Homo sapiens: one gene and its partners. The protein of the gene in region 3 interacts with the protein of the main gene of each other region in a pairwise test. Each region holds a gene or a part of one and is shown on either strand. Other genes may lie near its edges.

What was found.
Region 1: the proteins of ERMP1 (region 3) and SLC18A1 interact in a two-hybrid assay, tested with the Homo sapiens proteins (one large-scale study listed by BioGRID).
Region 2: the proteins of ERMP1 (region 3) and SLC23A2 interact in a two-hybrid assay, tested with the Homo sapiens proteins (one large-scale study listed by BioGRID).
Region 4: the proteins of ERMP1 (region 3) and CD200R1 interact in binary tests that used the Homo sapiens proteins (3 or more experiments, as listed by UniProt).

What each region holds. Positions count from the first base shown.
Region 1 is NC_000008.11:20,165,114-20,169,636, forward strand, and holds part of SLC18A1 (chromaffin granule amine transporter), read right to left. Parts: intron 1-4,523.
Region 2 is NC_000020.11:4,851,324-4,855,673, forward strand, and holds the end of SLC23A2 (solute carrier family 23 member 2), read right to left. Parts: 3' UTR 1,035-4,350; downstream 1-1,034. UniProt on the Homo sapiens protein: Sodium/ascorbate cotransporter. Mediates electrogenic uptake of vitamin C, with a stoichiometry of 2 Na(+) for each ascorbate.
Region 3 is NC_000009.12:5,783,835-5,788,903, forward strand, and holds the end of ERMP1 (endoplasmic reticulum metallopeptidase 1), read right to left. Parts: intron 3,760-5,069; coding exon 3,596-3,759; intron 3,475-3,595; coding exon 3,310-3,474; 3' UTR 738-3,309; downstream 1-737. UniProt on the Homo sapiens protein: Within the ovary, required for the organization of somatic cells and oocytes into discrete follicular structures.
Region 4 is NC_000003.12:112,971,676-112,976,831, forward strand, and holds the start of CD200R1 (cell surface glycoprotein CD200 receptor 1 isoform a precursor), read right to left. Parts: upstream 3,429-5,156; 5' UTR 3,183-3,428; coding exon 3,116-3,182; intron 1-3,115. UniProt on the Homo sapiens protein: Inhibitory receptor for the CD200/OX2 cell surface glycoprotein. Limits inflammation by inhibiting the expression of pro-inflammatory molecules including TNF-alpha, interferons, and inducible nitric oxide synthase (iNOS) in response to selected stimuli.

The DNA of each region.
Region 1 (4,523 bases), on a different chromosome or scaffold from region 3:
ACATGGATAACAAAAAATGTCCATTTGTACAGTGCATACATCTCTCCTATTTTCACAGAATCTGAGAAAGTACAATTATGGGCTTAGAGACCATCTACAGTATCTCCTTTACTGCAGAGACCAGGAACCCCAGTACAGGGAGAGAAAGTGACTTGTCTGATGCCACAGAGGAAGCTGGAGGCAGGACCCCTCCTGTGTGAAAGGTAGGCACTGTAATAGTCACAGATAGAGAAGCAACATATTCCAGCCATGGTTCCTGCGTTCACGTGACCATCAACAAGGTCAGAGTGGATTGGTAGCAAGGTCAGGGTTGGACAATAGATGTCTGGACTCCTGGTTTCCACTAGATCTCCCTGGTACTAATATTTGTCCTGGGAGAACCACAGGCAGAGCACCGAATCCCAAAAGCAAGCACAGAAGCCATAACTCAGAAAGCCTCTCAAGCTTTCTGAATTCTTCATTCTGATCATTTTGAGCCACACTGAACTAAGGTAGAAGAAGCAGGGTTAAAATACAGCCTAAACATCCAGGACCCACTCTCGTCAGGACACACTCTCATCTAAACTTGGTCGCCCCACCCTCTTTCCAAGCATCCCAGCAGTGCCTCAGCCATCATTATTGCCTTTGCCTAAACTACACGTTCTGAGCTTCTCCATAGTTCCATGTTCTACCCACTCTTTAAAGTCAAGCTTAAATGGCTCCTTCTTTTCTAGAGAGCTCCCTGACTCAGTAGCTGGGGCTTCTCTCTCTTCCAGACATCCTGAACACTATGTCCTAATCCTTCATGGTGTTTACTACTTTCTATCTTGTAATAGATTGGATCATTTTGGTATGATAACCCTCTCTGCACACACACAATAGTGGATTGATAAATTTAGAGATCCTAAAACTAAAGAGATCATTCGCTTACCCAATTATTATTCGAAGTAAAGAAACTGATGTAAATCATTAAAATATACATTTAAAAGTACAATAAACCCTTTGACCCAACAGTCCCACTTCTAGGAATTGACTCTAAAGATTAATGACAACATTATAAACATGCAGTCATGCAAATTACAGCACTATTTATAACTATAAAATACTGAAAACTACCTAAACATAGGAGATGGAATAAAATATGGCGCACACACTATTGTGTACACATACAAAATTGTGTGTGGGTGTGTGTGTGTCTATATATATATATATATATATATATATATATATATATATATACACCACCAGGTGGAAAATAATAAGGAAAGATTCTGTGAACTAGTAGAGTAATTTTCAGGACATATTATTGAGAAAAAAAGGAGAACGCAAAAAAAAGAATACATAGTGTGCTGCCTTTCATATAATAGAAAAGGGAAAAATAAGAAAACACATAAGCGATTTATTTTGAGGAAAAAACACTAAGACACAGGAAAGACAAACCAGAAGGCATTAAAATTGGTTACCTATGAGTGGTAGGGGTGGGAGAGGGGGAGGGTTAGAAAGACTGGAGGGATTGACACTTTCTGAGTACACCTTTTGGAATAATTTTGACTTTTAGGTGGTAATGTCCTATATATTAAAAAAATAAATTATATTAGTGTTATGGGCTGAATGGAGTCCCCCCACCTTAGTCAAATTAGTATGTTGAAGTCCTAACCTAATATGACTGTGTTTGGAGACAGTATCTTCAGGGAGGTAATTAAGGTTAAATGAGGTCATAAGAGTGGGGGCTCTAATCTGAAAAACTGTTTTCCTTATAAAAAGAGGAAGGGACATCAGGGCTCTCTTCCTCTGTGCATGCACACTGAGTAAAGGCCATGTGAGGACGCACTGAGAAGGTGGCTGTCTGCAAGCCAGGAAGAGAGGCCTCACCAGAAACCAACCCTCAACAGTACCTTGACCATGGACGTTCAGCCTCCAGAGTCGTGAGAAAATAAATATGTGTTGTTTAAGCTACCCAATCTGTAGTATTTTGTTCTGGCATCTTGAACAGACTAAGATAATTAGCCAGAATGGAGAAAAAAAACTAAAACTAAATGCCAAAAAAAAAAAACCCCACAAATGGATGCAAATGAATTTCAAATGTATCATGCATTACATAATCACACTAAAGGTGGAAAAAAGAACTAATGGAAGTACGGTAATTTCTAGATACAGTATTTGGCTATATTCATTAAGTCTAAGGGAAAAAGAACTGAAAAGTCTTGAATATTTCTTGGTAGCTTTGTTTTTTATAATGGCATGGGTAAGTATTATAGAATTATACAAGTAAGTAAATTTTTTAATCTATTTGTAAAATAGGTGTTTCACCTATTTGTATAATAGGGGGAGACAAATTTCTTACTTTGAAAGAAGAATACATGTATGGAATGGGGCAAGCAGGGAAAAATCCCGTGGAGTTGGGCTGGAAGTGGAGGTCTCAGTACAAACTTGTGTGTGTGTATTAGCTCTGTCATCAAGATGGCAGGGAAACAAGGTGACCCCAATGGCAAAGAGCACATTGAGTCCCCATAGTTTTTTGTTTTTTTTGTTTTTTTTGTTTTTTTGAGACAGAGTCTTGCTCTGTAGCCCAGACTGGAGTGCAGTGGCATGATCTTGGCTCACTGCAAGCTCCTCCTCCTGGGTTCATGCCATTCTCCTGCCTCAGCCTCCTGAGTAGCTGGGACTACAGGCACCCACCGCCACGCCTGGCTCATTTTTTTGTATTTTTAGTAGAGACGGGATTTCACTGTGTTAGCCAGGATGGTCTCAATCTCCTGACCTCATGATCCGCCTGCCTCGGCCTCCCAAACTGCTGGGATTACAGGCGTGAACCACCGTGCCCGGCCCCATAGTTTGGTTTCTAAACACCATTCCCTACTAACAAGAACCTGGGCTCCTTGGGGAAATGAATTCAGGGCTGAGGCAGGGAAAGTACAAGATGAACGTAGGACATATTTTTGTATCGAAAAGTAAAACATTACTCAAAAAACAATGAAGGTATGTTAAAATGACACAGCAACAAGTTAATGGGCTTTGACTTGTCAAATCTAGGACAATTTGAGCATCAAAATAATTAAGGACGGGAGGCCAGGAGTTCAAGGCCAGCCTGGGCAACACAGGCAGACCCGGTCTCTATAAAAAGTTAAGCTGGGTGTGGTGGCATGCCTGTGTAGTCTCAGCTACTCAAGAAGCTGAGGCAAGAGGGTCACTTGAACCCAAGAGTTGGAGGCTACAGTGAGCCATGATCACACCTCTACACTCCAGCCTCAGTCACAGAAAGAGGCCCTGTCTCCAAAAAAAAATTAAACAAGTAAATAGAGTGATGAACTACAAAAATAGGACTCCATGATTCTACACTGATAATATCAGATAAATAAATGTTTTTTAAGTTTTTTGTGAACATAATCACATGTACATAAAATTATTATATACCTATTTGGTATAAATATTTATAAATATATACATATAAAGAGAGTAAGAAAGGAATGGCTATTGCTTTTTTGTTTTTTAGAGTATTTTTTTTGAGACAGAGTCTTACTTTGTCACCCAGGCTGGAGTGCAGTGGCTTACTGCAACCTCCGCCTCCTAGGTTCAAGGGATTCTATTGCCTCAGCCTCCTGAGTAGCTGGGATTACGGTGTGCACCACCATGCCCAGCTAATTTTTTTGTACTTTTAGCAGAGACAGGGTTTTGCCATGTTGGCCAGGCTGGTCTCAAACTCCTGGTCTCAAGTGATCCGCCTGCCTTGGAGGAATGGCTATTCCTTACAGCAAAGTGCCAACTGATGATTTGGATGAATTGGTGAACTAGAAAAACCAGTATTTTGTAAACATTATAGTAAAGATTGGGTCAGTCAAGAATCATCAATGGATAACAAATCTAGGCAGAAAGGAAATTTAAGGAGGAGTAGGAGATTTATATGACTTTACAACATCTCCCACATGTTATATATTAGTTACAAGGTGAAGAAGTAATTACTACACAAGAGACCCAGACAACACCTTGACCCAGTGATCAAAATGGACATCACCACTGAGAGGCGACGGGCATTAAATACCTCCAGACATGAAACTCAGAAGGCTACGGTATCATGAAGAAACATCAGACAAACCAAATTTAGGAATACCCTATAGATAATTGTCACAAATGTCAATGTCATGAAAGATAAAGGCTGAGAACTTTTCCAGATTAAAAGAGGCTAGAGAGGTGTGATGCATAAATGTCTTACACAGTCATGGACTGGGCTTTGCATTAGAGAAAAAAAGACTTCCATGGAAGACATTATCGGAATAATTGACACAATCAGAGTAGGCACGGCAAATTAGACTAAAGTATTATATCCATGTTAAATTTCCTGAATTTGATAGCTCCATTGACATTACATAAAAAAAAATCCTGTTCTTAGGGAAAATGCTCTAAAGTATCAAGGGGTAAGGGAACGATACAATCAATCTACTGTCAACTGGCTCAAAACATTAGTAATAATAATAATAATGTATATTTGTTAGAAAGAGAGAGAATGGGCTGGGTGCGGTGGCTCATGCCTACAATCCCAGCACTTT
Region 2 (4,350 bases), on a different chromosome or scaffold from region 3:
CTCTCTGGTCACCACTCCCAAAATGTCTTCCACCTCCAGATGTGTTACTGTAATAACAGACTCAGAATTTCACCCCCTAAGTCCAACATGGGTGCACTCTCTAACTTTTTGAGGCCTCTGAGACTTTACTTCCTCCTTCCACATCCTCGCAAGAGTCCTGCCCAATCTCTGGTTCTCTGGGAACGAGGACTGATTGTCCCTTTCCTGTAGCTTTCATTGATCAGTCTGCCAGGCACCTGACAATGATAACGCTCATGAACTTGTTGAATTGAATTTCTTATCCGTTGATTTCCTCCCCTAGGTGACAACTTTTAATTAATTACCATCGGCTTTCTGTACCTGAGGCTTCTGTATCCTTGGATTCAACCGAGGATTGAAAATAAAAAACAATAAAAACAACACAATAAAAATGCAAATATAGAAACAATACAGTGTAACAAGTATTACATAGCCTTTATATTGTATTTGATATTATAAGTCCTCTAGAGATGATTTAAAGAATACAGGAAGATATGCATAGATTATATCCAAATCTATACACTACACCATATCCATGTACACATACACTACACCAAAATCCACAACACCATTTTATGTTTTTGAGACAGTCTTACTCTGTCACCTCGCCTGGGGTCCAGTGGTGCGAACACGGCTCACCGCAGTCTTGAACTCCTGGGCTCAAGCAATCCTCCCACCTCAGCCTCCTAAGTAGCTGGGACCACAGGCGTTCACCACCATGTGTGCCTAATTTTTTTTAGTGAAGGGGCGGGGCGGGGGGGGCGGGTTTCACTATGTTGCCTAGGCTGGTCTCGAACTCCTGGCCTCAAGCAATTCTCCCGCCTTGGCCTCTCAAAGTGCTGAGATTACATGGGTGAGCCGCTGTGCCTGACCCACTATGCCATTTTATATCAGGGACTTGAGTAGTCTCGGATTTTGGTATCCGAGGAGGTCTTGGAACCAATCCCCTACAGATTCTGAGGGATGACTCTTTTCTTAAAGAGTAGCCCAAGAAGGAGGCACGTGAAGAGCAAAACTGTGTCCAGGAGAGCTTTTATTTGTACGGAACAGTTTTAAAAATACAGAATAAAATAGCTTTATCTCTACTATTATTCACAACATCTGGTCCAAATATTACATATTTTTAAAATACTTAAACGTTTAATGAAGCCATGTTAGAAAAACAATATGAAAATTCTTTTTAAAAACTCCATAAAAGAATTACACATCTCAAAAAACAACCCCACCCCAAATACCCTCGGTAATCAAAATAAAAATAAAAAACAAACAAAACCCCAGAAAGGTATATATAGCCAAAGTCAGTCACAAAAACTCAAGGAAAATATAGGCATCCCCACTGTTTTAAGAACAGTCAGAAATGTATTAAGGTGTCAAATGAAGATTGTTACTAACGAACAAAAAAGGAGAGTCATTTGAACTGTCAGTAAGATGGCAACGTGGGGAAGGGTGTCCTAAGTGCCTGGAAACACGCACAGCAATGCTAAGGACATGGGAGGGTAGAGTGATGCTGAAACACAGTCAACACCAACCAGAAAGGACGGGAATGTCTGTGAGGCTGCTGAAAAGAGACCCCCAACGCTAATGTGCCTTATGGGTCCATGGGCAGACGCTGAACGCTGGCAAAACCGGGTGGCCGTTCTTGCACTACTCGGGTTCTGACTGCAGGAGGGGCAGAGGGTGGTCGATGTCCTAGTCCCTGTGTCTAAAAAGTCATGAGGGGACAGAGTACAACAGGCAGCACGTTAAGTCCCTGGGCTCTTTTCCAAAGCCAAGAGGAGGCTCCCTGGAGAAGCGAGCTTTGCGAATGCTCAGGCCCGGAGCCGCACACTAACGCGGCGTGCAGCAGGTGTGGCTGGGTGTGCACAGCTGGCGTCCAGCGACAGCCATGCCGGGCCTATGCCTATAGCGAGTGTACACCCCATGCACGGCCATCCCCCAGGATGCTGCTGCTTCTCTGGCCAGATGGGTTCTGGAATGAGGCTTCTGCTACTGCTCCATATTCACCTTCAATCTGGCCTGGCCACTCCCATGGCATCCGTATTACTGAAGATGAGACTTGCCAACTTTAAGTTGCTAGTACCAATATTTCAGCAGGGATATGAATGAAAGAAATAACAACTTAGCTCATGGTCATAAAATATACGTATGGGTAAATAAAGTATACACACATACTAGAGATTCATCAATGGAGAAATTCTATCATCACATGACATTGTCATGAAAATTATATCATTCCCTCCCTGGAAAACTGTGACTATTATCCTGGGTAGAAATGTTATTTTGCTATATGGAAATACTGCAATATTCATGCATAAACCAAGTTGTCATCATGAAAGTCGGTATTCTACAGCATAAAGCAAAACCTCTGTGCGAATTTGTTACCATGAAAACGGGAAACCATCAGGACCCATGATGCTTCATTCTGGCTGGCATGGTTAAAGCCACTTCTCTTGCCTTGATCAATCCCAAGAAACTAAAAGTTAGCATTTGAAATCCTCTTGAGGATTCTGAAAGTAAATGTATCTGTGAATCTACATTTAACTTCCTAATGAGAATGAAAATTGCTTACAAAGACTAGAGTCACTTCCCATTATTCTGTGAAGCAGGGGTGGGGGCCCTCCATCCCCCACTGTGAATATGGCATCACCTCCTGTCCGTATTCACGCTGTCTACATTTCATGTTGGGATTGCCCACACAAATGCTTTCTTTCAGGGACCAGGCAGGTGACCTGGGAAGGTGGTGGGTAGGTGGTCTCTGTGGAAACTGGAGACTAACCGGCCTGCAAGGACATTCACATCCAAAATATTTTACAACACTCTACAGGCAAAACAAAGTACGGGGTGGTGGTTCAAAGCCCCAGCAACGCAGGCCAATGATGTGAATGGGAAGTGTCATGACACAGACCGCGAGTGGCCACCGTGTCCCCCAATATCTCCCCTTCAGGTGTGTGCTTAAACCCAAGAAGCAGATGAATACATTCTTTTTCTTTCAATTACAAACTTTCATTCTGTAGCATATTTTCCAGTAGGAGAACCACTTCCTAAAATGGTGTGTGTGTGTGTGTGTGTGTGTGTTACATGTTCAAGTTTATTAGTCATTAGGGGACTCCAATCACTCAAGGCTGTGCAGAAAGTACCAGATTCAGCAGGGGCATCTAGTCAGGCTGCCCTCTTTGCTCCCCACCTCCTATTCCCTTACCCCTCCTCGGACAGAATTATTGGGTTGGCCACAGTGGAATCAGAACAGGAAACTCTCACTCCAACAGGAGTTGAAAGGGTAGGGCTTCCTTCCCTGTGTGAAGGCCTACAGAGGGCACCCCACATGTTAGCGGGGTTGAATCCTCCTGATACAACCCGGCCCAAGGAGGGGCTTCAGAAGGGAGTGGGTTTCTGGATGACTAGAGCAGACACCTTGAGTGTTATGCAGCGGAAGACGCCCAGTCAAGCTGAAGAGAAGGTGCCCCTGGATCACCAATGGCTTTCAGGCTTTTATTTGGATATTTGGTCTTTCTGCTCACCTGGAGAGCTAGAAGATTGCAAATCTCTGGGATGTTTAGCAGTTTTCCCCATTTTTCAGAGCAGAGAAACTGGAGATGTTGAGCAAAATCCAAACAGAAGGAACTGAGAGCAACTCATTGCAGGAGGGCTGCCAGCCTCAAGAGTGTCCCAAGGCAAGAGGGATGGAAACCGCGAGCCAGTGTGCTTCTAAAGTATGCATCAAAGACACATTTAAAAAAACATACAAAATTAGATGTAATTTAGCATCTAAGTTCTTTACTTAATCTGCAGTAAGTTTTTGGCAAAACAATGCAGTGGCTCCGAGGTGTTCTTGCCAGAATAAACCTTGAAGCCCCAAACTTCCAAGAGTGAAGGGGGCTACGGTGACATGGCAATGCTGCAAAGACAGCGCCGCAGCACTGGAGAGCTGAGCCAGCCTGGGGCCGAGGGGGACAGGAATGCACCGTGTGGACACCAGGCTGCCAAGAACCATGCCCTGCCGCTGGAGACAGGAGACAGGCACCCACGCAGCTGACCAAAGCTCGACCAGGCCAACGGCCACCGAAGATGTGCCACCTCATGAAGCGAGGGCACTGCTTCCTATCTCAGGCCTTTTCCTTCACTGAAAAACTTCAAACCAAACCAAGAGGAGTCATTTCTCAGGAAGAATTTAGTGTTATTAATTAGAACTCTCTTAAGTGAGAGGGAGCCTGTTGGCTGCTTTTCTTATCACCTTTGGCAACCACCCTCACCTGTAAAATCAAGATCTAACGGACGTGCGACATGGCAACCCACAGGAAGTCTCCTTAAGCCAAGACTTGCAACAGAAGCCCG
Region 3 (5,069 bases):
AGAAATACCTAATGTAGATGACAGGTTGATGGGTGCAGCAAACTGCCATGGCACATGTATACATATGTAACAAACCTGTACATTCCACACATGTACCCCAGAACTTAAAGTATAATTTTAAAAAATTTAAAAAGAGTCGTAACTGCATCTTGGCTAAAAACAAATGTAAATAGCCATAACTGCATCTTGACTTTATTGGCCCTAAAAGAAGAAGAGGAGTATTAGGTTAGAAGTTGTTCAGCTGCTTCACCTTGCATTGAACTGTTCTGAGAGAATTCACTCAAAGTTTAAATAACTTGCACAGAGATCTCTGAACTCAAAGTTCATGCTCTATTTTGGTGAGTGGTGGTGCCCTTTCCTTCTGTGGAGATTAGAATAAGCAATGAGTCACTCTGGCTGAAAGGCAACTTCTTCCCTCCCTCCTACCCTTACTCCCAAATAAAAGAACGCCCTTTACCCTTTGCTATTTTTTTGCTAATGGGGATGATTTAAAACTCCTACATAGGTGAAGCTCAACATTTACCTAATAATTTCTGTGAAATTCAGAAGTACCATTTCATTCTAAGATAAAGGATTCTAACTGAAGTAAACATTTCCATGTTGAGTTCTTTGCTCACATGAGCCATCTAGGTCTTTTAACAGCAATTAAAAGGCTCTGTGGACATGGAATAACCCTTGAAAATATGGGGATACAGAAGAACACAGATCTGTTTTTCAGTTAAAAAGATACCAACCAGTATATTAAACAGTTTATTTCAGTAACATTGTAAGGCAACAATTAATCCTCAGTAAGTCAGCAAACCAGTGACAAGAAATTGACAAACACTCCTTCTACAGCTTCCTGAGACAGCAGGCTGGCTTGTGGCCCCCTGGGTGGTAACATCTTAAGGAATCCTATCATGTTTGTTTATATATGCTAAACTGTAAAAACAAACACTTCATGCGACAATCATTCTTAGGTCAAACACAAGAACGAACTATTTTGAAATCAATTCCTCACACTTTTTCCCTGAATATGCAGTACTGTACTACTAACATCTAATTCTGTAGAAAATAATGCATTTGTTAGTGACTTTGTTAGAGCTTGAAAAGACCCTTTTAGAAATTATTTAAATGATCACTCTTTAAAAATTTTTTTTAATCTCAGAATCTACTAATGTGACAGACAAACGGTATGCTTAACAGAGTCATAAATACTGTGTATAATTGCTTGACCATTTCTGGCATTTAAATGACCTCCCAGAATATTACACAAGCCCTGAGACTAGTGAGCATCTTACTACTGACCTTGTACAATACCAAAGCTTCATAATGCTAAAGAAAACCAAAACAAAAGACAATGGTTTACACAGGGAAATAACCCTAAGGCAATATGAAAACAGTCATAATTTATTACTGATAAAGAGTAAAGGCATCCTTCCCATAGAGGGGGGGAATTCACAGGGAACACTAATTATATCAGATGAACCACGGGGATAGAAAATAGGCCCATTTTTAAAATTCATTGAGAAATTATTACTTTTTCTCCACAACTGTGATTCTATACAAAATATAAACCCTGCAAACCTTATGTGCTACCTGACAGATAAAAGTAGCAGGAGCCAGACTCTTGAAGCACTTGAGACTGATTTCTACAAAGTCCAGGAAGAGCAATGATTCCAGTGTGCAGTGCTGATGCATGTGTGAGCCTAACATGTTATTCAGCTCTGGTTGCAGCCCCATCTACATGGGCCCAGTTAGTTTTTAGGGAGTCACAGATTAGGCAGGCAACGAGGGGCATGATTTAAAAAGCACATCATACACATGAGACAAGCAGCTTCAAGGACGTTTTCTCCGGCAATGCATACTTACTGTGCTCTTTCTATTCAGACAGATCCACAGACCACCTTTCAAGAGCATTCCTCTCTCATTTCCTCCATCACCCAAGATAAATCTAGCCACCCTTTTTTGTTAACTGTGCCTTTTCTTTCAACTTTTTGTCCTTGTTAAAACTCAAAATTTGTCCAACGTTTCACATTTCCTAATGATAAAAAGAAAGCTTGCACAGTTTACCATTGATCTCACCAATGCCCTCACTGCTGGAACCAAAAAGCCATGAGAGGTACTGCTGTGATACACCTTACAAGCTACATAGCCATCTTCAAAATGAAAACCACCTTTTAAGTCCTCATGCTGCCATTACGCAGGATCTGAACCACCTACACGTACAGTGGTCTCATTCCAGTATAAGCCACAACCTCAAGTCTCAGGAAAGCCAGTCTGCTGGATAGTAAGTTACTGAGAAAAACTAATCTATTCAACTGGCTGGAAAACAAAAAGATAGGCCCAGTGCATCAGTAAGATTATACCATGAAGGACTAACCTTGTATAACACAAGACTCCTATGAAACAAAGAAAAGAGAATAAATATTTATAAAATTCCCACCACTCCCAGCCTTCCTTCTACCCCAGAATAGCCCAGATGGCAGCTCAGTGCTCTGAGGAAGGAAGTTAAGGTCATGTACTGGCACAAACAATATTCTGAACCAAAAGAACCTACGAAAACCAGAGGGGTATGTGGCCAAATATTCCCCTTTTCAACTTGGTAAGATGGAGAGGGGTAACAGACATGTTTCAGAGGAAAACAGGCATAGAAAACCACCTCAGGAAAGCAGCACAGCAGTGCATCTGTGTGTCCACTTGTCAGGACAGTGAGTCACCAGCTCAGCACAGGGTCCAGGCCTCAGCACAGAGAGACAAAGCACATTTGAGAGGCTGCCTGAAGAAACAGCTTGACACAGGCTACAGCCTCAAGAGTGCAATGCTTCTCTCCCAGCCCTATGGCAATCACTTTCCAGTGACCTACACAGAGTTATATTCTCAAGGGGAATCATTACCTCAGTGAATGATATTTTACCCACCATCCACTAATACAACAAATGGTTTTGGGGCTTAAATTGGAAACAACTTTTGTCTCATTAACAATGCTCTGACAGTGTACATCTTTCTTGATCCTAAAGGGGCAGCTATTGAAGTGGATTGTTGGCTTTGTCCTTAAGGTCATATAAAATGACGTGTGTGTAGTGGCAGTACCCACATGTGCTGAAGTGCCAAAAGACTGGCATTTTCAAGTGTCAACAGGCCATGCATCACTGCGCCACAGCTAAACCCTTATAGTGCTTGGCCCTGAAAAGCGTTAACCCAGAAAGCTCTTTGAACATATGATCATTAAAATTCATTGACTTACGTTACAAACATCCACGTAACATAGGGAGAAACCATGTCACATGGAGTATCCACTGGGCATGTACTTAGAGCTCATCCACAAGATTAAAATACAAAGAGATCGTAGGTGCACACCCAGGCAGAGGGAAATGTCCAATCTGGGAACTTTTCCTTCAGAGCATCCAGTTGAGGGGATCTCTTGTCTTCCCCAGACAGATAGTGGGCAGCAATGGCCACGGTGACCATTCCTTCAGGATGTTCTTCTGAAACCTGCCAGAGAAAATCAATTAGTTCTCCAGTTCTCAGAAGCCAGAATACTGAACCCAAGGTTCTTGCTAAATACCACCTGGGAACCTAATCAATGAAACAAACAATGCTGGGAAATTGGCACCTGCACTTCTATCCAGAACTGCCATGCAGAGGCCTGGAGTCCATGGGAGTAAAAGACAAAGTAGTCTCCTCCTTTACTTGTGACTGGGGTGCCATTGCCAAGAGACCACTGAGAAAGTGTTGACCCTTTGTGGGCTCGAACATAGAAGGACATATGGCTTGGTCCTGTAAGGTAAAAGGAAGAAAGAACAGTTAATCTTTTTAAAAGGATCAAAAAAATAACCCACAATCCAAACCAGACTTCATAAAGGTTCATGCCTGCATGACTTTAAATATACTTACTATAAACCTAATGGAGGTTTACCAGTTTGGACACTTAGTGTGAATCAACAAGGTTAAATAATGAGGTACAGGAGAAAAGGCACAGACTGTAAATGAGAAAGCCTGTGTTAAGTTGGTCCTATCACTTAACTGCTGCATGACATCAGGAATTTAATCTATGTCACAATTTCTTCATTGAGGGGATTATATTAGAAAAAGCATATGAAAGTGTTGGCAAAACTGCGAAGTGCTGTAACAGTACTGAATAGGACTGCCATTATGAATGGAGTTGTAATTTTCAGAGTTGATCATGTAACACCTTAAAATATGTTTTACTAGTTTTTCCCTTCAAGCTGGAAAATATTAGCTCAGTTCTGAAAATTTAGTCATCACTGGGAACTTCCAAGGAAACTGATGACAGTGGAAGTCAAACTAAAACTAAAATAGATAAAACTAAACAAAAACACACCCTCAGCCTAACTTAAAGACAGAGAATACCCACATTTGAAATAACCGTAAATTTTTAAATCTCAGGGAGCAATCTCACACACTTGTGCCCACCCTGCTTCTGCTGCAAGGCTTTGTGGCAAATGCAGACCAAGTCAGTCCACCCTAAATCTGAAAATACTACTATAGTGTCCAGTCAAAGAAAGGTTTACAGGGCAGGGACTTAAAAGTATATTATTGAAGTAACAGTCTTCAAAACCAAAGCTTCTCAGGGAAAAATAAAAAAGAAGGAAGAGGAATCCTTTGGCATTTGGGTGGTGAAGATGAAAAGAAGCAAAAGAAAATTCAGGGTCCTGCAAGAAAAATCCAGTCAAAAAAGTTGAAAGAGATAAATATTATTCATCCACACCAACACAAACTTCCTAAAGAATCTGGACTTTCTTACACTGACAGAAAAGGAAGCCATTGCTAGAAATCTTACAAAACAGCACAAAAATGAGGAAGAAAAGGATAAACAGATCCATACAGTTATTACCAAAAAAAAGTATCAGAAAATTCCTCTTGGAAAAAAAAAGAAATAACCATGAAGCAGGAGAAAATGTTATAATCACACTCCAACTACAAATATATCCATACAAACATTTGGGGATATTTAAAACCCCACCATGAATCAGAAATTCTTACTAGAAGGAAGAATTAAAAGGACCGACTAGACTCAGAAAAGAAATGGAGGAAAAAGGCAAAATTACCTTAGAAATGAAGACAAT
Region 4 (5,156 bases), on a different chromosome or scaffold from region 3:
AGGTGGTTCCTCATTGTCTACTGACTAATACCCAGGTTCTTTAATTTAGCTATTAAGGACCCCCAAAATCCAGCCTTATTTCCTACTATTATTTAACACACAACCTCTGTTCCTGCAAGCTACAGCTCTTTCTCTCTCTGAAGCACCTTGCATTTGCACATGCTACACATCCCATCCTTCCAATTCCTTTCTCTGCATTTCCCCATTTATCCAAACCTGTCATTCAAAGCCTAGCTCAAGACCCATCTCCATAAAATCCTCCACAACTCCAACCCACTGTAATTTCTCCCTCCTTTAGATTTGTACTAGTTTCATATACAATTTCAAGATTTACTGATTTTAAATGTTCACCAATTGTTTCATCTTACCTTTGTCTTTCTAATTTAGATTACTAATAACTTTTAGGCACTATTCTACACACACACACAGACATTAATAAGGACTTTTAATTAATTTATTAATTGCTTAAGCATGAACATTTAGAGAAAAACACACCTATAAATTATTATAACATGTAAATTCACAAATATGCAAACTAGAAAAGGAAGATAGGACTAAAGTTATTAATAAGGACAAAACCCTTCTTTTGCACAATTGTTTTGAATCTTTTTCCACTGTTTGCAAATCTGCCAAAGCTACCTTAGAGCCCTGTCTTGATTTTTATCTCCTCTTCTTGTTACTGCCTGTCCTCTAGTGGAAGACAACAATAAATGAATAAAAATTAGCCCAAAGAAGGAAAGAAGTGAAGGGTTCCTTTTTAGTAACTCATAATCACAAAATCAGTAACTTTTATAAAAGATGGAATAATTTTAATTGGAACACCAAAATATAATTTGAACACACACACAAAAATCTAGAAGACAATAGGGCTAAAAAAAAGGAGGAAGAAGTGGCACAGGGTACGGGGAGTGTCCGGGAAGGGGACCAGGTACAAGGCTGGGAATATAGCTCTGATGTACACAATTTAGGTTGTTTTTATTTTTCCCCTTAGGTTTTTTCTGGATAAATCTTGTTTACTAACTGCCAAGCTGCTTGAAGTTATAAGCAAATAAGTAGACAAAAAGAAAATAGGGAAACCAAATGAATACTATGTTTTACATTTAAGTCATTAGCTCCCTTGTTCCTTTGTGAATTTACCTTGTACAAAGCGAGTTCTTTCTGTTTGGCAGTATTAATAACATAGCAGTTTTAGCAATAAAGACATAAAGTCATATTTCCCCAAGTGGTATGCTTCTCATTATTCTAAATCATGTCATGGTTAACCTATCACACCAAATCACTACATGTAAAGTAATATGCTTTTTTAAATCCTGATTTTAAACATTTAATAACTTTACAATAACATAAGCATAGACTTCATAGATCTGCTATATGTAGTCTTTCCTAGTTGTGTTCAGAAATAGTTTTAAAATTTAAACCTTTCAACCTTTAAAATTGAAAATTACAAATTATGTTTTAATCATTTTTTTTCCTTTTCCCAGGAGTAACAGTGCAATTTGACATAAACAGCTCCTTGCCTATCTGGCTGCCCCAGCCAAGCTGGGTCCTACACAAGTTGCTATAAGAGCTTTCTACAACAAGATCTGAACTACTGAAAGATTCAGATCACTTGACTTTTTAGGTGAGTAACAGTCTATTAAGGCTAAAACTAAGTATTGGCTTGACTTTTTTCACTGATGCTCTTCAGTGAAAAGCACAATGGTTAAATAATGAGGAAAATTGCCCACTCAAATGTTTAGTGGTGCTTACTGATGTATATCATTACTGATTGTGATTCTGGCACATACTAGTCATATCTAACCTTGGCCAAATCATTTCACCTCTCTACGCCTCCATTTCTACCTTTGTAAAATGGAGAGGTGTCTTCCATGTCTACTTCACTGGGTTGCTGTGCAGATCAAAGGGAAAAAAGCATGTGAAAATTCTCAATAGAAAGGTGCAGTCAAAGAGTGTAGTTATTTTGCATGTGTTCACTAGTAAGATTAACATGTGGAAAGAAGATTTTTTGTGGAAGATAAGCAGCATTTTAAAGTCATTCAGAAATGAGGAAAAATACCTTTTCTTCTTTCAATTATCAAATTATAACATTTAAAACCAACTACACTCTTCCCTTGCAGCTGCTCTGTCTACCAAAAGTGAAACCTGAAAACTCCCTCCCACACCAACTCCTACCAACCTTCTACAGTGAAACCAGGACACCCCCACAGTGGCCCAAGTTCTCTATAACTTCTATAGGAACCTAGATGTTGAAGAGTCTGTTCTCTAACTCGTAGTGTCTCTTACAGCCCACACATCTTGAAGATAAATACAGACATACATCACAGACGCACCACTGTAACTGTAGGCATATTATATTTTTGAAGTGCCTAATCATCGAAAGTGACAGAAAGCAATAAACTGTCCTAATCTATGCCACTGGCAATGTGGACCTAAATGAGTTAGCGTTCTTATCTTAAAAAAAAAAATTAAGAGAGAAGAGGCTGGGTGCAGTGGCTCATGCCTGTAATCCCAATGCTTTGGGAGTCTGAGGTGGGAGAATTGCTTGAAGACAGGAGCTCAAGACCAGCATGGACAATATAGCAAGACTCTATCTCTACCAAAAATTTTAAAAATTAGCCAAGCATAGTGGCGCATATCTGTAGTCCTAGACACTCAGGAGGCTGAGTGGGAGGACTGCTTGAGACCTGGAGTTACAGGCTGCAGTGAGCTACGATTGCACCACTGCACTCCAGCCTGGGCAACAGAGCAAGACCCTGTCTCAAAAAAGGGGGTTGGGGAAGAGAATAAGATAAAGAGAACCTAACTGACTTTGATTGCTGCTAGTATGTATTTGATTTATCCTGCCTTGTTCAAAAAACAGGAGGAAATAAGGAAATGGACAGTAAGACAAATTATAGAGATCTGTATATTGTAGTAGGATACAAAGTACAACAAGCAAGACACCGGAAAAAAGGATAATAAAGTAAACTAGATATGGGAGTAACCCATATTTAGCAACCCCCTATATTTATTATTGCAATTGATTTGTATTGCCCCAGAAGAAAGACAAAAAATAAACTCAGGAAGAGCTGAGACCAGGTTTCTCACTGTTCTCCCAAAGAGAATTCAAACTTACCGGCCACTAAGAAGATAGTCAAAATCAACAGTAGCCCTAGGTTAGCAGTTCTCCAAGGGCAGAGCATTTCTGTTTTCTCTTTTTCTGCCCTTCACTCAGTACTTTTCCTCCACACAGGTACAGAAGGAACTGTGCGCATGGTGAGACCCTCTCTGGTCAACTTCTCAGTACAGGATCCTCTTACCCCATCAACAGTGGGGCACTCCCTTCCTTCTAGCCCCTTCCTTCACGTCTATGTGGTTTAGCCTGGTTAGTAACTTGGACGAACAGAAGCTTTTCTCTGGAACTTGACACAGCAATAGATTTCCTGTATGAAGCCCTGAAGCAAAGACGGAGGAAGCAGATTGATTGAATTATCTCTCAGCTCATTGGTTCTCCTCTCACTTCTGCTGTACACAGACAAACTTTACAGTAAGGCATTGAACGTGTCCAAGATAAACAGATTTGTCTAAACTTGCACCAAAAAGTAAAACAGAATATTGATCTACTTTGGCCCATCCTTGTAAATTTCCCAATTATGATGACTTTTAGAGGCTTTCTCCAGGTTGAAGAGCTTTACGGCCTTAGTATTTGAGTCTGGAATACAATATGTTTTCTTGAAAATTATTGTGTGAAATTCCTGTCTATAATGGGAGTCAACACACAACCCTGTAAACATCATATGTGTATTAGTTTCCTATTGCTACTGTAAGAAATTACCACAAACTCAGTGGCTTAACACAACACAACATTTATTATCTTACAGTTCTGGTGATCAGAAGTCTGAAATGGATCTTAGGGGACTAAAATCAAGGTGTTGGAAGGGCTGCACTCCATCTGGAGGCTCGGGCAGAATTTGCTCCCTGCCTTTTCCAGCGATTTGAGAATGCCTGCATTTCTTGGCTTGCAGCTACATCATTCGGACCTCTGGTCCACTGTCACATCTTCTCTGACTGTGACCCTTATGCCTCCCTTTTATAAAGACCTTGTGATTATTTTTGGTCCACCCAAATAATCCAACATGATCTAATTTCAAGATCTTAATTTAATCACATCTGCAAAGTCCTTTTTGCCACACAAGGTAACATTCACAGGTTTCGGTAATTCGGACATAGGTATCTACCTTGTTGGGGGTGAGGGCATTCTGTTTATCAGAACTCAGTACTTATTGCCATTCAGTTTCACCTTTGGAAAATTAGACTGATCATTTTAACCAAATTACAAATAATCACCCATCTCTTAGTTGCCACACATCTGGAATTCAGACTCCCCCTAACCAAAAAAAAAAAACAACAACAACAACAAAAAAACCTCTTCCTTACTGTTGCTAGTTACTATGTTACTATGCTTTTAAGTTATGTCTGAGAGAGGGAAAAATCTTCTATGTGCTGAGAATTTTCTGCCCCAAGGCAAAACTGTACAGGAAGGGGAAGAAAACATTGCAAACAGGAAAAAGATTAAACAGCATGCATTTTTTTTCTCAGTTAGCAGTTTCATCTTCCTTCTTGCCAAACATTATAAATATTTCCCCCCTTCCCCTTCTCAAGCTTTTTTTTCCAGTTAATTAATTTGATGAAGACAGTGAAACCAGATCCTTGAGGGCATGGAACACTTAAGGGTATGAGCTGTGACAATGGGAAGACCAAAACAAAAATGTCTTCTCTTCTGTCTAATGTTTCACCAGGTGTCGGAAAATTAGTGAGAATACATCATTTAAAATACAGATAATATTCTGGTTTTCCACTACATAGAAGTGAAAGTTGGCCGGGAGTAGTGGCTCATGTCTGTAATCTTAGGACACTGGGAGGCCGAGGCGGGCAGATTGCCTGAGCTCAGGAGTTCGAGACCAGCCTGGGCAACATGACAAAACTCCAAACTCCATCTCTACTTAAAAAAAAAAAAAAAAATTAGCCAGGTGTGATGGCACTCATCTGTAGTCCCAGCTACTTGGGAGGCTGAGGCATGAGAATCGCTTGAACCCAGGAGGCAGAGGTTGCAGTGAGCAGAGAGAAGTTAAAGTTAAAATTCACACTCGCTTAGGATACAGATAGACATAGGGTTA